2 linked regions of the Homo sapiens genome follow. The protein of the gene in region 1 interacts with the protein of each later gene in a biochemical or structural test. Each region holds a gene or a part of one and is shown in the gene's direction. Other genes may lie near its edges.

Region 1 (3,752 bases):
CGTCGTCACTGGAGGTCCCACTTTGCCCTCCGGAACTCACTGGGGCTATGTTCCTTTTGAGTCTCCTCCTCCCACCATGCTTCGGACCCCTCTGTAGCTGGCTCCTCCTAAGATCCTGGGGGCCACACACCAAGCCCAACATGCCTGGACGTCACTCCCATTTATCCCCTTTCCCCAGAGGCAGAACCCAGCCCTGCCCCAGCTTGGCGGTGAGGGTCCAAGAGCAATGGTGGCTGAGCTCGGCCAGGTACCCCACACCTCCCCATCTTCTCCTCTCAGTGCTGGGCCTGGAGACCACAGGCCAGGCCCCACAGATCCCCAGGGGGGCTGCCCCAAGGGACTCCCCTGCCAGCCCCAGCCTCCACCCAGGCTGGGATGGGCTGGCTTGATGGGCTGACTCAGCAACTGGCACTGACACCTCCTGGAGACAGCTGGGAGGCTCCTGCTAGGGAGGGGTGAGGAGGAACAAGGCTGGTCTCCCTTGAAGAGTGGGAACCCCCCTTCCCATGTGAGGGGAGGAAGTCTCTAGGGACTTGGGAAGGAGGCTCTGCAGGTGCATCGGAGCTGTCTAAATGCTGGTGGGGTCTACCGGGGGCTTCCCATCTCCTTGTCCAGCCACCCCCTCAGGTCCTGGAGCCGCCACAGAGCCACATCTAGACAGAACAGTGGAGCAGGTCCCAGTGCAGGGGAAGGAAACAGAGGGCACCTGAGCCCCTCAGGCTGGGTACCCTGTTTCCCCTTGAACTGCACGACTTGGTGCTGGCAGAGCGGAGCAAGGCTCAAAGCAGGCCCTGGAGCTTTGGCACCATATGTCACTAGGCGAGGGGCACTGGGCTGAAGATCAGTAAGGGAAGCCCACAGCACAGAGACCAGGGCCAGAGGATGGGCATCCCAAAGGCAGCTAGCACAGCCCTGCCCTGCCAGCCGGGGGGGGCGCCCAGAGCCACCTGCCCCCAGTCCAGCCATGCCCCTGCCCTGTCACCCACACCAGGCTTCATCCCCCAGCTCAGGCTGCAGCTCCAGCTGCGAGAGGCCCTGAGCGCCCGGAAGGAAGGCTGTGGTAGGTTGTGGTTTCTTCAGCTCCCAGCCTACCTCCAGCAGAGGCTGCAGCCGATGCCCTGGAGAGAGCCCCTGTCTGCCCTCTGCTGCCTGACTCCTGTTGGGTCCTCACCTCCCAATGGGTTGCCCCATTCTGGACTTGGATCCTTAAGGAGCACCCTGCAGTGTGGTGGAAGGAGGACAGGTTCCAAGTCAGAGACCAGGGTTGGAGTTCTGGCTGTGTGATGTCAGGCAGTGGGCTCCACATCTCTGAGCCTCAGTTTCCCCATCTCAAAAACAGCTGACAAGCCCCAGTCAGGTTGTTATGGGAAGGTTTTTGGGAGCGCAGGGACGGTGGAGGGAGGTTGGAGGAGGTCACTAGAGCTGCCCCCTGCCTGTCCTGAGATTTCACCCTCCCCACTTTCTCAGGGTGTCTGGCTGAAGCAGAAAGCTGCGCCTGTCCTGGTGACGGCGACTGGTCAGACTTGTTTCTGCTCACCTAGGCGGCCCGGGGGAGGGCCTGGCTGGGAGCTTTGTGGAGGGATTAGCTCTAGGGGAGAAGAGCCTCACTTACTCCCGGAACAAGATCCCACAGGGCTGTGGGAGTGCCGGGGGGTGAGCCTGGGGCAGGTGACAGCCGAACTAGCTGGGAGTGGGCCCTGCAGTGAGGCAGGGGGTGGGCCAGGGAGAACAAGGCAAGAGGAGCTTCATTCAGGGTTCCTGAGCCTTTGTGAGCCACTCACGTTTTTACCACTCACTTAACCGTCTTTGTTGTTGGGGTGAGGGGTCCTCGAGCCTGGATTTGGGTATGAAAACCCAGGCAAGAAAGACCTGCCCAAGCCTTTAAAGGAATGCAAAGTCATCCTCTAGCCACCCCCAGAGATCGAAAGGCTGGGGATTGAGTCTCCTGCAGATGGTGGCGGCCTCCTGGGGCTGGCAAGTTGGGACAGAGGCCCATAAGCCCTCCTGGGCGCGCCTTCCCACCCCTCTCGGCCCTCTCCACTCCCAGCTGGGGATTTGGGTTTCAGAGCAGCCTGGCACACACACCCCCACCCCACCAGAATCTCACTCCCAGCTTCCTATGACTATTCATTAGTATTCACAACAATGGGAAAGTCTGGGTGTGCACAGGGATTTTTTACAGTTAGAAAGTGTTTAAGTCAATGACCTCACTGGGCCTCAGCAACCCTGGGAGGCAGATGGCAGTCAGAATGATCCATAAATGACCTGCCCCAGGTCACACAGCTCCTAAACAGGGGAGCTGGAACCTGGCTGGGAGCCTTGACTATCCACTGCTCATTGTCTGATGTGCTGAGTGATAACACAGGGCCAGCAGGCTGGACAGCAGCCAGTGGCCCTGCACCAGGCCTGGAGGAGGGGGAGAGGGACAGGGACTCAGGCGTAGTCCTTGGGCACAGGCTTCGGCTGCCTACACCCATATTCCCTCCATCATACTGTGTGTCCAGGCCTGCAGCTTCTAAGCTGAGCTGCTTACTTTGGACCAAGCATGTTGGAAACTGTTTTCAGCTGAGTCCAAGCACTCGAAATCTGCGTGTGCCCTTTTAGTAGGTCACACCCTCCAGGCCACAGCCACACTGGGCTCCCTTTAGCCCAGCCCTGCTTTTCCCAGTCCCCTCCCCATTCAGGCTCCTCTGTTTCTGGGGTCTCTGTGCTTCCGTTGCCACCTCTGCCCTTGGGCAGCGGTGTCGGGGGAGGAGGTCCTGGAACGCCTGAGGATGGCCCCGTCTTGTCCAGGTCCCCTTGCTGTGCTGAACAATAAGTTTTTGGTTATCTGCTCCTTCTGGCTCCCTTTTGGCTGGGCCATTCGGCTTGGTGGGGGTGAGAGAGAGTTCGAGTATATGGAGGAAGGCTTTACTGTAAACACACTGACCAGCTTTCAGTAAACACCTGCCTCTTCCTCCCCTGCTGCAGAGAACGGGGTACAAAGGGGCTGGGGGTCCTCAGTCATATGCCCCAGGTCCCCAGCCAGGCTGACGGGTGCCACACTCTGCCCCCTCTCCAGGAGGGCCAGACTGAGCCACCAATGGGGAGGGATAGAGGCCCGATCAACACAGCATGTGATTCACCTTAGACTGTCAGAAGGGACAGGCATGTGAGAGCTAACCTGGTCCTACCCCTCATTTGGCAGAAGAGGAAACTGAGGCTTGGACAGAGCAGTGTTTTATCCACATCACCTAAGCAGTTAGCTGCGGTGCTGGGTATCCACACAAGTCTTTTGAGTCCTGGGCCAGAACCCTCTCAAATTGCTGTGTAGGGATCTAGGCAAATTTGCATCCTCCCAAACCTTCCTTGGTTGGGGAGATGGGGACAGGCAGAGGACAGGGAAGGCAGAACCTGGGGCACTGTGGAATAGCCATGGACCCTCCCCTGTCCCTGCAGCGCGAGCTTCGGCCTCGGCTCTGTACCATGAAGAAGGGCCCCAGTGGCTATGGCTTCAACCTGCACAGCGACAAGTCCAAGCCAGGCCAGTTCATCCGGTCAGTGGACCCAGACTCCCCGGCTGAGGCTTCAGGGCTCCGGGCCCAGGATCGCATTGTGGAGGTGATGCTTCTCGCTCTCTTCCTATCTGACTGCCCCCACCCCCTGCAGATCAGCAGCACCTGGGGCAGCCATCATACCATCATGGGCTTGATTAGCCCACGGGCATAGCCAACCTGGAGCTGCTGGATGGATGGGTGGATGGGAGGGAGGGA
Region 2 (3,752 bases), on another chromosome or scaffold:
ACCTTACTGAGGTGACTATTAGCTACATGGCATGAGTAGATTAAAAAAACCATAGACTGCACTGTAAGGGATCTTTTTTTTTTGAGACGGAGTCTCGCTCTGTCACCCAGGCTGGAGTGCAGTGGCGCAGTCTCAACTCACTGCAACATCTGCCTCCCGGGTTCAAGTGATTCTCCTGTCTCAGCCTCCTGAGTAGCTGGGAGGCAGAGATTGCACCCATCACCACACCTGGCTAATTTTTCATATTTTTAGTAGAGATGGAGTTTCACCATGTTGGCCAGGCTGGTCTTGAACTCCTGACCTCAGGCGATCCACCTGCCTCAGCCTCCCGAAGTGCTGGGTTTACAGGCATGAGCCACCATGCCTGGCCTGTAAGGGATCTTAATAGATTGACCAGCTCAGCCCTTACTTACATAGATGAGGAAACTGAGGCCCAGAGAGAAGAGTAACTTTCTTAAGATCACAGCATATTAGTGGCAGAACTAGGACTTGGACTTAGGGTTTCTGACTCCCAGGTCAGTACAGTTTCCACTGCCTTCACCATCCATAAATATGGCCTTTCGTCCCTGCAGGATATCAGGTGTCAGACAGGTAGAACAGAAGTGTCTTAGCAGTCACCTGCCTGCTCTTACCTTCCCTGACTTAGCTCAGCACTTTCGACTCTCTCAGCAGTATATGAGGCTAATAGAAGTGGCCCAGAAGGATAAGAATATGTTGTCATTACCAGTTCATTAGACTGATTAGCTTCAGGACTGGGAAGAGGCTCATTCACCTTTTTCTCCTCAGGCCTGCGGTGGAGTAATTAATACTTATTTGCGGGGAGACATTTCAAGTCAGGAAGCTGAAAGTGGCAGGGCATGGTGGCTCACGCCTATAATCCCAGCACTTTGGGAGGCTGAGGCAGGTGGATTCCTTGAGTTCAGGAATTCGAGACCAGCCTGGGCAACATGGTGAAACTCCATCTCTACAAGAAAATACAAAAAATTAGCTGGGCATTGTGGTGGGCACCTGTAATCCCAGCTACTTGGGAGGCTGAGAGGTGGGAGGATCTCTTGAGCCCAGGAGGTGGAGGTTGCAGTAAGCCAAGATGGTGCCACTGTGCTCCACCCAGCTCTTTCTTGAGACAGAACATGACCCTGTCTCAAAAAAAAAAAAAAAAGACTAGGTGCTGTGCCTCACGCCTGTAATTCCAGCACTTTGGGAGGCTGAGGCAGGCGATCGCTTGAGCCCAGGAGTTCAAGACCAGCCTGGCCAACATGGTGAAACCCCATCTCTACAAAAAATACAAAAATTAGTTGGGTGTGGTGTCATGCACCTATAGTCCTAGCCACTTGGGAGGCTGAGGTAGGAAGACTGCTTGAGCCCAGGGAGGTGGAGGTTACCGTGAGCTGAAATCACGCCACTACACTCCAGCCTGGGAGACCTTGCCTAAAAAAAAAAAAAAAAAAAAAAAAAAAAAAGCTGAAAGTGACCTTAGAGATGGCCATCAGCATACAGATGGATAAACTGGAGGCCTGTGAGAAACCTGGAATTCCTGATTCCCAGTCCTAGGCCTTTCCATTTCTTCACCTTGTCTGTCTTTTGAGCCTACTCCGCAGGGAACCTTTAGTGAGACTGAGATGGTCCCTGTCTGTTTTTGAGTAGTAGCCACAGACAAGAAAGCAGCTTGCCAGTAAATGATCCTGTGGGTGGCATAGGCATAGATCAGAGTGCCGACAGCATTAGTTCTTCTGGCTTGGCTGGAGACCGAGTGGGGCATTGAAGCCCAGGAAGGGCCGGGTGCAGTGGTTCACCGCCGTAATCCCAGCACTTTAGGAGGCCGAGGTGGGCAGATCATTTGAGGTCAGGAGTTTGAGACCAGCCTGGCCAACATGGTGAAACCCCGTCTCTACTAAAAATACAAAAATTAGCCAGGCGGTAGTGGCTCACGCCCATAATCCCAGCTGCTCAGGAGGCTGAGACAGGAGAATCGCTTGAGCTTGGGAGGCGGAGGTTGTAATGAGTTGAGGTCATGCCACTGTACTCCAGTCTGGGTGAGACAGACCGTGTCTCAAAGAAAAAAAAAAAAAAAAAGGCCCAGGACCAGTTGAGGAAAAAGATGTTTTCAGCAGGGAAGGGTGGGAGGAGTGATGATACCCCTCCTGTCACTTTGGAGCAGGAAGAACAGACTTGTTTGGTGTCCCTTCTGTAGCATAGAGGAAGTGGTTGGGAAGGGAAAGAAGGATACAAGTTTTATACCAGGTCTCCTGGCCCGAGGGAGGTGACCTGAGAGAGGTGGTCCCTGACCTTCTTCTCCTTTTCCTATGTGATTGTCAGGTCTGGCCTCCTGAGGCTGAGAGCTTCCCATCCAGCCTCAGTCCGCCCAGTCTGCAGGCCAAATGAGGTGAGGAGCTATGCTCTTTGGGATCCCATGGGTGTTGGCTTCCTGTTATGGGAGCAAGGGATCTGAGCTGGGCCCAGGGAGAAACATCTGGAATAGCAGTATTGCCTTCTTTAGTTCTCATTCCCTGGGCCTTTCATTACTAGCCAACTTTGGAAATCATAGAACTGGCTTAATTGGCATCCCTATAGTTTATTGTGTGCCAGTTTTTATTGGAGTGGGGTCAGGGCCCTCCTGGCAGGCCAGATTCTGACTCCTTGCCTTATTCTCTAGTTAGTAAACTCAGAGCATCTACTTTTCTTGAGCTGTTACAGATCCCAGGAGAGCATGGAGCTGGCATTGGGGTGGTCCCTGGGTGGCCCATCTGGAAGGAGGCATTTGTACATATGGGGCCCTGGGCTGTGACTCTAGACTGCAGGCCCTCCCATTTTCTCTCATTTTTCCCTTCTTAGCCTCGAAGGAATATCCGGTTTGGTGGCCCTGTGAGTGTTAGGTCCTCAGACAAGACCTGACTTGGTAAAGGAGGGAGCCGGCACACCAGCTGCTACCCTGGGAAGGTGCCTGAGTGTCCGCCTGCTGGGAAACTCTAAGCTGTGGGAAAGAGATAAGATGGTAGCACCTACTTGATGTTTTGTCCTACCAGCATCTGGGCCTGAAACAGGACCTCCCAAGGGGCAGTGAGGCCTGGCTGTGGCCCAGCCACCCAATCTGTTTATATCGAGGTGGGCAAGAGAAGGTACTGTGTGCTCCCTCCTCACACAAGCGCCAGAATCTGGCTGGCTGTGTGATCTTGGACATGTTGCTTCACTTCTCTGAGCCTCAGTTTCTCACCTGCAGAATGGTTATGATAACACTGACTTTGCAGGATCATTCTGAGGTTTAAATGAACTAATAATACAGGGTAGGTGCTCAGTGAATGTTCTTCTCCCTCTTAAAGACTGGAGCAGCTCGTGGTTCTATCTTTTCATTTTCTACTTCCCATCTTTGGCTATAATGATGAGTGTCAGTGAGGCCCAGCCCCTGTCGGCAGGAATGAACCCTAACCCATGGTGAATCCTTACTTCCCCTGAGAGGGGTGATTATCCCCATTCTGTGGATGAGCGTACTGAAGACCGAGGAAAAAGTGCCCAAGGTTTGCCAGCTGGTAAATGGCAGAACTGGGACTAGAACCTGTTTCTTGACACTGCATCCAGTAGTGACTACACCTTGCTAAGGTGGCAGCAGGCAGGGTGCCAGGTGCTTACTGTCCCTAAGTCCCTAAGGTCCCTGAGGTCCCCACACCCAGGGCAGGAGTTAGCAGGAATCTGGCTACCTCCCCCTTCCAGTATGGAGGGCAGAGCAGGTCTCAGTACAGGGAAAGGTCATGGCCATC

What was found.
Region 2: the proteins of NHERF1 (region 1) and TBC1D10A form a complex in vitro, tested with the Homo sapiens proteins (2 studies listed by BioGRID and IntAct).

What each region holds. Positions count from the first base shown.
Region 1 is NC_000017.11:74,758,574-74,762,325, forward strand, and holds part of NHERF1 (Na(+)/H(+) exchange regulatory cofactor NHE-RF1), read left to right. Parts: intron 1-3,438; coding exon 3,439-3,600; intron 3,601-3,752. UniProt on the Homo sapiens protein: Scaffold protein that connects plasma membrane proteins with members of the ezrin/moesin/radixin family and thereby helps to link them to the actin cytoskeleton and to regulate their surface expression. Necessary for recycling of internalized ADRB2.
Region 2 is NC_000022.11:30,320,302-30,324,053, reverse strand, and holds part of TBC1D10A (TBC1 domain family member 10A), read left to right. Parts: intron 1-3,752.